2 separate regions of the Homo sapiens genome follow, and region 2 is linked to region 1. Evidence: fine-mapped expression QTL. A gene starts in region 1. The other region holds a variant in brackets. All regions are shown on one strand. Distances are between the middles of the regions.

Evidence for each region. PIP is the estimated chance that this variant, and not a neighbour inherited with it, causes the effect.
Region 2: its variant is fine-mapped to the expression of SLC2A7 in prostate (GTEx, PIP above 0.99).

What each region holds. Positions count from the first base shown.
Region 1 is chr1:9,023,895-9,028,280 of GRCh38, reverse strand. SLC2A7 (solute carrier family 2 member 7) reads left to right here and starts at 1,858. Exons shown (of 12, transcript NM_207420.3): 1 at 1,858-1,986; 2 at 3,207-3,305. The coding sequence starts at 1,936.
Region 2 is chr1:8,999,557-9,003,942 of GRCh38, reverse strand. It overlaps SLC2A7 (solute carrier family 2 member 7), which reads left to right. Exons shown (of 12, transcript NM_207420.3): 12 at 425-970. The coding sequence ends at 643. Among named protein-coding and RNA genes, the nearest start is that of SLC2A7, 25 kb to the left of the region's middle. The variant T/G (reference allele first, on the strand shown) is at 1,868.

The DNA.
Region 1 (4,386 bases):
TCTCAGTCTTGTCATTTACCCACCTGTTACCACCCATGGGCAAACACATTTTCCCCCAGGTATCCTTTTTTTTTTTTTTTTTTTTTTTGAAACAGGTTCTCGCTCTATCACCCAGGCTGGAGTGCAGTGGTGTGATCATGCCTCACTGCAGCCTCAGCCTCCTGTTTTCCAGTGATCCTCCTACCTCAGCCTCCCAAGTAGCTGGGACCACGGGGGCATGCCACCATGCCCAGCTGATTTTTGTATTTTTGGTAGAGATGAGGTTTCACCATGTTGCCCTGGCTGGTCTTGAACTCCTGAGCTCAAGCAATCCTCCACCCACTCAGCCTCTCATTGTGCTGTGCTTATAGGCATGAACCACCGCACCCTGGCCTTCCCCAGGTATACTATGTGTATTCTGCTTTGATCACTTCTCTTAAAGGTCATGTTAATTAAAAAACATGTTAATGTTTCCATGTTCCCACATTTCATAATTATCCTTTGAAACAGAAGTCTGGCATTCCAATCAATTAGTTACTCCTAATTTATTCAATCATTCTCTACTTTAAAAAAAAAATGCTAGTAGAAATGATTCTGAAATAAGCACCTTTGTCCAATATTTTATTGACTTATTTAACACTATTTAGTGTAATTAGAAATAATAACTGTGTTTTTCTGAAAGTGTTTAATTTGTTCTTTCCCCCAAATGGACAATTAGTCCAAATGCACAAGAGGAGGCATATATGAAGAACCTAGGAACACACAGAAAGGAACAGCAAACACTGGGATCTACTTCCGGCTGGAGGGTGGGAGGAGGGAGAGGAGCAGCAAACAAACACTGGGAAGTGGGCTTAATACCTGGGTGATGAAATAATCTGTACAACAAACCCCCGTGGCACGAGTTTACCTATGTAACAAACCTTCACATATACCCTGAACCTAAAATAAAAGTTAAAAAAAAAAAAAAAGCCAGGTGCGGTGGCTCATGCCTGTAAGCCCAGCACTTTGGGAGGCCAAGGCAGGCGGATCACTAGAGGTCAGGAGTTCTAGACCAGCCTGGCCAACATGGTGAAACCTCATCTCTACTAAAAACACACAAAAAAAGGCTGGGTACGGTGGCTCACGCCTGTAATCCCAGCACTTTGGGAGGCCGAGGCGGGCAGATCATGAAGTCAGGAGATCCAGGCCATCCTGGCTAACACGGTGAAACCCCGTCTCTACTAAAAATACAAAAAAAAAATTAGCCAGGCATGGTGGCAGGCACCTGTGGTCCCAGCTACTCAGGAGGCTGAGACAGGAGAATGGCGTGAACCCGGGAGGCAGAGCTTGCAGTGAGCTGAGATTGCGCCACCGCACTCCAGCCTGGGCGACAAAGCGAGACTCCACCTCAAAAAAAAAAAAAAAAAAAAAAAAAAGCTGGGTGTGGCGGCACGTGCCTATAATCCCGGCTACTTGGGAAGCTAAGGCAGGAGAATAGCTTGAGCCCAGGAAGCCGAGGTTGCAGTGAGCTGAGATTGCGCCACTGCACTCCAGCCTGGGCAACAAAGGAAGACCCTGTCTCAAAAAAAAAAGAGGCATACATGGAAAAATGACACAGAAAAAGCATCCTAGATCCAGGTCACAGCCTCACTGGGTCTCTGAAAGTCCTCATTTCTGCGGACCAATGTCAGGCAATGTTTTTTCTCTCTCCTTGGTGCAACTAGGGAGCTTTCGGCTTGGGGCTTGGTGGGTGCAAAGACGAAATTCGTGCTGTGTATGATTTGTGCACTGGCAACGTGTGTCTTATCAACATTTCCAAGGAGAATTTGCTCCTGGGGAAAGTCAGCAGGGTCCAGAGAGCAAAAGGATCATAAAGCCAGGTAGGCCCAGGGGAGAAACAGCCGGTCTTTAGGTGGCTGGCGCAGAGCAGGTGTCACTTGGGAGGTAGAGCACACCTGTTCTCCCACCTGAACAAGGATGGAGAACAAAGAGGCGGGAACCCCTCCACCCATTCCATCCAGGGAGGGGGTAAGTGCCAAGACTAGGAACCTGTCACTGTCCCTCTCCCACCAGCTGTGCAGACCTGTGGAGGGAGGTGAAGGCCGTGGAATGCTTTTAGCAAGGAGCGGGTAGCGTGCTTCCTTTTTCTTCAGGATAACCAGGCCTGGGAGAGCCATGTGGAGAAGCAGCTATGCTCAAACCTCATGGCTCAGACATGGGCCAGGGTGGCTGAGCGAATGCTGGGAGAGCGGATGGTGCTGGAGATGCCTCTCTCCCTTCCACCCCTGCTCCCCTCCGCTTCCCCTACCCTTAAAGATCGAGGGGAGATGGCCTCTGAAGAATGCCCGAATCCTGCCCTTCTGTCTGGTTGTTCCTGGATGTGCAGAGCTACGGGCTGTGGGCAGCCAGGCAGCTAAGTGTGAGGGTTGGGGTGAGGACATGTGGAACAGGAGTGAGGGGTGGAGGGGGCAGTGGGGAGGGGGCATGCACCAGGGCCTTGGCTCTAGGACATGGTCAGAGACCCTGCCCACCTGCTCCTCAGACTTTGGCCCTCAGGCCAGTTCCCCTCCAAGCTGCCCTGGGTGTTGTGGCAACCATGGAAAGCCTGGCCCTGAGCACAGGCGACTGCCGGGATTTTCCTAAGGGCCTGTTCTAGAGGCAGAGGCAAGCAATGAGTCCCTCTGTCTGGGATGCTCTTCCCCCCGATGCTTACACAGCTGCTCCCTCTCATCCATTCTGGTCCCGGCTCAAAGGGCGCCTGCTCAGAGAGGCCTTCCCTGCCCTGCCCACCCTACTGAACACAGTCTCTCATTCCTCACAGGCTGCTACCCCACCCATCACCCTATTTTATTGTCCTCACAGCATTCTAGCTATTTGGAATTATCATCTTTGTCTTTCTTGGACGGGGTGGGCTCCCCTCACTAGAAAGTGAGCTTCTTAAAGGCAGTGCTTTGCTGGGCCTTTTTCCTAAAGCATCCCCTACTTCACACTTGGCCTCCAGGGCCTAGTACAGGGCCAGGCACGTAGCAGATGCTCAGATACATCCTCAAGGAGGGAATGAATGCGTGCAGAGACCTCAGCCCCCAAAAGCCCCAGCCCTGCGCCACCTCCTCCTCTTTTCCGGGGGCACGGCCTGGGATCCCCCATCCCCCACTTCCAGCCCAGGCTGGAGGGAGGTGGAGGCCCAGCCACTCCACTTCCCGAGGCCCAAGCCCACAGCGTCCCGACCTTGGACTTGTCTCCTACAGCGGCTCCAGCCGACGCTGTTGCTGGCGACACTGAGCGCGGCCTTTGGCTCAGCCTTCCAGTACGGCTACAACCTCTCTGTGGTCAACACGCCGCACAAGGTGGGCACAAGGTGGGCACAAGGTGGGCCGGGCAGCAGCTGACCGGGGTCGTGGGTGGAAGGTAGCCGCCATCTTCCTCCGTGGAGGCTGCCATCTTGCCTGTAGGAGGCACCATCTTGCCTTTGGGAGCAGCCAGCTTGCCCTAGTACCCTGGATGCTCACCCCTGGAGACCAGGGCGTGGCAGGAGGTGTTTCCCCCTGGAGTGTCGTCCTTTCCGGGCACATTGGGATGCTGGGGGACCTGTTCCATTTTCCAGCCCAGTCTTTTTGGGCCTCAGGTCCCACTGCTCTCACCTTGGGTAGGCCCCTTGTTGATTGGAAAGAGAATGGGGTCAAAGATTGAACTCTGTGGCATTTAGGGATTGGGGCAAAGGGGAAAAAAGGAAAAAGAGAAGGGGCCCTTGCAGGTGTGGAAGACCCTGAGGGCAGAATGTCCCCAAAACCTAGTAAAGGATGAGAGTCAAGGAGGGAGGGACAGCCTGTGCTGATGAGCTCAGATGAGGACTGAGAACTGACTACAGGCTTGACCTTGGTATACGTCTATGCTTACGCTTGTATACATATATTAGCATGTCTACAGACACTGTATTACATTTGTTTGTGTATTACGTATATATACATATATTAGTGTACTTACAATTATTACCATGGATGGAACCTCCGAGTCAAGCAATGTACCATCACTTAATCACATTTAATGCTAACACATTCTTTATAAGGTACATCTTGTTTCCATAACTGATGAGGAAATTAAGGTTTCTGGAGGTTCTGTAACTTGCCTGAAGTCACACAATTAGTAAAAATATTTCCTGGGCTGGGAGCGGTGGCTCACGCCTGCAATCCCAGCACTTTGGGAGGCTGAGGTGGGTGGATCACCTGATCACCTGAAATCAGGAGTTCAAGACCAGCCTGGCCAACATGGTGAAACCTCATCTCTACTAAAAATCCAAAAATTAGCCAGGCATGGTGGCGGGTATCTGTAATTCCAGCTACTCGGGAGGCTGAGACAGGAGAATCACTTGAACCCGGGAATCAGAGGTTGCAGTGAGCCAAGATCATGCCACTGCACTCCAGCCTGGGT
Region 2 (4,386 bases), 24 kb after region 1:
AACTCCTTTATGGACTCACAAAGGCCTCGACCAGCATTGGTTATTTGTTGTTTGTTTTGGGGTTTTTGTTTTTGTTTTTGTTTTTTTGAGACAGTCACGCTCTGTTGCCCAGGCTGGAGTGCAGTAGCGCGATCTTGGCTCACTGCAACCTCTACCTCCTGGGTTCAAGCGATTCTCCTGCCTCAGACTCCCAAGTAGCTGGGATTACAGGTGTACACCACCATGCTCAGCTAATTTTTGTATTTTTAATAGAGACAGGGTTTCATCATGTTGGCCAGGTTGGTCTCAAACTCCTGACCTCAGGTGATCCACCTGTCTTGGCCTCCCAAAGTGCTGGGATTACAGGCATGAGCCAACGTGCTCAGCTGAATCAGCACTGTTGCCTTTCTCTGCCCCCTCCTGTCTTTCTCGTCTCCTGGTCTAGGAGGCCATCGGTGCCTACAGTTTCATCATCTTTGCCGGAATCTGCCTCCTCACTGCGATTTACATCTACGTGGTTATTCCGGAGACCAAGGGCAAAACATTTGTGGAGATAAACCGCATTTTTGCCAAGAGAAACAGGGTGAAGCTTCCAGAGGAGAAAGAAGAAACCATTGATGCTGGGCCTCCCACAGCCTCTCCTGCCAAGGAAACTTCCTTTTAGTGGCCCTGCATGAAGGACGGGAGCCCATATTCAAGGCTTCCTTCTATGACAATGGGCCTCCCGGCCCCAGGCTCTGGGGAGGATAATAGCACGGAGGCTTTTGTCGTTGCCCCCATTTAACTTAATTATGGATATTATTAAATACCCACAACAATGCATATTTAGCTGAGAAGTTCCAAGGCTAGCCATTGAGGAATGACCTGGAGGAAGGGGCCGGCACGTGAATTTTGATTGGTTAAGACTCGATTTTCCGATTCTACATTGGCACCAAAATTTAAATGATGTATAGATGCACTTTTTTAAAGTAAAACTTTTCAAGTTCCACAATTGCTATGGATACCCGAGCTGCCGTCATTGCATCAATTAAGGAGTCCAAGGCTCTGAATGCCATTGCCTTCCTGGCGACGTGGCTTCCTTTCTCCACCCCGTGGCTGCAGGTTGCACCGTGAATCCCAGCCTGCGTGCCCAGCTCTGTCCTGTCGATCACAGGGTGAAGGGGGCCAGCCCCTCGACACCTGTGGGTATTTCTCGTCAGGTGGGATGAGAGACTGAAAAAAGAAATAAGACACAGAGACAAAGTATAGAGAAAGAACAGTGGGCCCAGGGGACCGGCGCTCAGCATACGGAGGACCCTCACCAGTACTGGTCTCTGAGTTCCCTCAGTATTTATTGATCACTATCTCTACTGTCTTGGTGAGGGGGATGTGGCAGGACTATAGAGTAATGGTGGGGAGAGGGTCAGCAGGAAAACATGTGAGCAAAGGCTCTGTGTCATAAATAAGTTTAAGGAAAGGTGCTGTGCCTTGATGTGCACATAGGCCAGAGTTATGTTTGACTTTACACAAACATCTCAGTGTAGTAAAGAGCAGTATTGCCGCCAGCATGTCTCACCTCCAGTCATAAGGCAGTTTTCTCCTATCTCAGTAAACAGAACGTACGCTCGGGTTTTATACCGAGACATTCCGTTCCCAGGGACGAGCAGGAGACAGATGCCTTCCTCTTACCTCAATTGCAAAGAGGCCTTCCTCTTTCACTAATCCTCCTCGGCACAGACCCTTTACGGGTGTCGGGCTGGGGGACGGTCAGGTCTTTCCCCTCCCACGAGGCCATATCTCAGGCCATCTCCATGGGGGGAAGCCTTAGACAATACCCAGGCTTTCTTGGGCAGAGGTCCCTGTGGCCTTCCGCAGTGCATTGTGTCCCTGGGTACTCGACAATGGAGAA[T/G]GGCGATGACTTTTACCAAGCACACTGCCTGCAAACACATTTTTAACAAGGCGCATCCTGCACAGCCCTAAGCCATTAAACCTTGAGTCAACACAGCACATGTTTCTGCGAGCACAGGGTTGGGGCTAGGGTTACAGATTAACAGCATCTCAAGGCAGAAGAATTTTTCTTAGTACAGAACAAAATGGAGTTTCTTCTGTCTACTTCTTTCTACATAGACACAGTAGCAGTCTGATCTCTCATTCTTCCCCCCACAACAGGGGCCACAGGCAAGGGAGTAAGACCATTCCCAGTCCACTCTCTCTCCTCCTCTCCCTCCAATGGGGAAGTTGATATCTTCCTTGAAAACAAGGTGCAGTGCCGGGCGTGGTGACTCACACCTGTAAACCCAGCACTTTGGGAGGCTGAAGCGAGTAGATCACCTGAGCTCAGGAGTTCGAGACCAGCCTGGGCAACACAATGAAACCCCGTCTCTACTGAAAATACAAAAATTGGCCAGTGCGGTCATGTGCGCCTATAGTCCCAGCTGCTTGGGAGGCTGAGGCAGGAGAATTGCTTGAGCCCGAGAGGCAGAGGTTGCAATGAGCCATAATGCCACTGCATTCCAGCCTGGGTGACAGAGTGAGACCCTGTCTAAAAAAAAAAAAAAAAAAAAATAGCACCTGCATTCAGGCCTGACCATGTCACTCCCTGCTGGAATCCTAGGCTGATTCTATCACTCGAGATGATAAGGCTGGAACCGTATTGTCATAACGTGGGTTTCCTGCCACCACCCCAAGTACTTCCAATCCTCTGTGCCTTTCTCCCTGGCGTGCTTTCATGTGCCTTCCCTCCAAACGATCACAGCCCTACCCAGCCTTCAAAACCCAGCTCGAATGAGCCTGAAGAACCTCTCCTGTCCTGTCCAGCGGGAGGTCCTCTCACCTCTGGGCCCTGGAATCACCGTGCATCTTTTTCCATTGGCATGCTTGTCACTTTGCATATTAATTATAGGTTTACCTGTTGCCCTGTAGTGTCCAAACTTAGTGGCTTAAAACAATGACAGCTATTGTGACTCCTGGTTCCTGTGGGTCAGGAATTCAGATAGGACTCGGTGGGAATGGCTTCTCTCTGCCCTTTGACATCTGGGGCTTCAGCTGGAAGACTCGGAGGCCCAGGAGCAGAGCTGTCTAGAGGCTTCTTCCGCTTCTGATCGCTGGTGCTGGAGGGCAGTGAAACTGACACTCAGCCTGGGCTCCTCACACCTGGGGCACTGGATTCCTGGGGGTGATGGGGCAGGGGGAGACAGAGTCACACACACACACACACACACACACACACACACACACACCAGGAAAGTCACATGCTGTTTGCTAGATGCTAGTCAGTCACTCCGGCCCACAATAGTGGCAGGGGGGATGGTTGTGTTGAGAATTAGACCACCCCTTTTATTTTATTTTTATTTATTTATTTATTTTGAGACAGAGTCTTGCTCTGTTGCCCAGGCTGGAGTGCAGTGGCACAATCTCGGCTCACTGCAACCTCTGCCTCCCAGATTCAAGCGATTCAGCTGCCTCAGCCTCCCAAATAGCTGGGATTACAGGTGCGCACCACCACACCCAGCTAATTTTTGTATTTTTAGTAGAGATGGGGTTTTACCATGTTGGCCAGGCTGGTTTTGAACTCCCAACCTCAGGTGATCCATCTGTCTCGGCCTCCCAAAGTGCTGGGATTACAGGCATGAGCCACCGTGCCCAGCCTAGACCACCCCTTTTAGAGACAGGGTCTCGCTCTGTTGTCCAGGCTGGAGTGCAGTGGCAATCATGGCTCACTGCAGCCTGGAACTTCTTGGCTCAAGCAATCCTCCCACCTCAGCCTCCCAAAGCACTGAAGATTACAGGAGTCAGCCCCCGCACCTGGCCCCTTTTGAATAGAGGAGTGTCAAAAAAATTTGCAGAGATAGTTTAAACCCACCTCAATATCTTTCTTTGGGTCTCACATTTTTCACCAATTCGGTCCTTAAGTTACTTAAGGTCTTTTAGTTTTACTTTGCATGTCTCTAAATTGAGGCTGATAATCTTTGCCTCACATAAATCGGGTGGAAATGCTTGGTAAGTACGAAGCATTTCACAAAGGTCAGGGTTCATCTTCATGGCTGCTATTAGAAATGGATCTGACAGCTGCGTCCCCTGCACGCTCATCCCAGAGTCTCCATTGGGCCCATTCTCTGTCTGGATCTGTACAGAGCCCTGCACCAACGACTGAGTCCCCAGCAGGTCCAAGGTGTGGCTCCAGCAGGTCCTGTGGCTGAGGCAGCCCAGGTGTCTTCATCCAGGAATTCCAGGAGTCCATGTGATTCCTCCCCCGAATAAGAATGCCTCCCTCCTGGGTCACACACCCTGCTGGAGTTCTGTTCCCACAGCCTTTCCTGTGGTCCACAGAAGGGAGTGTCCAGGTCTCATAGTAAGCCAGTTAGTGGTATGAGAGCAAATCAGTGAAGAAGCCATCACCAGAGTGTGGGCTGAGTGAGCCCAGGGCCA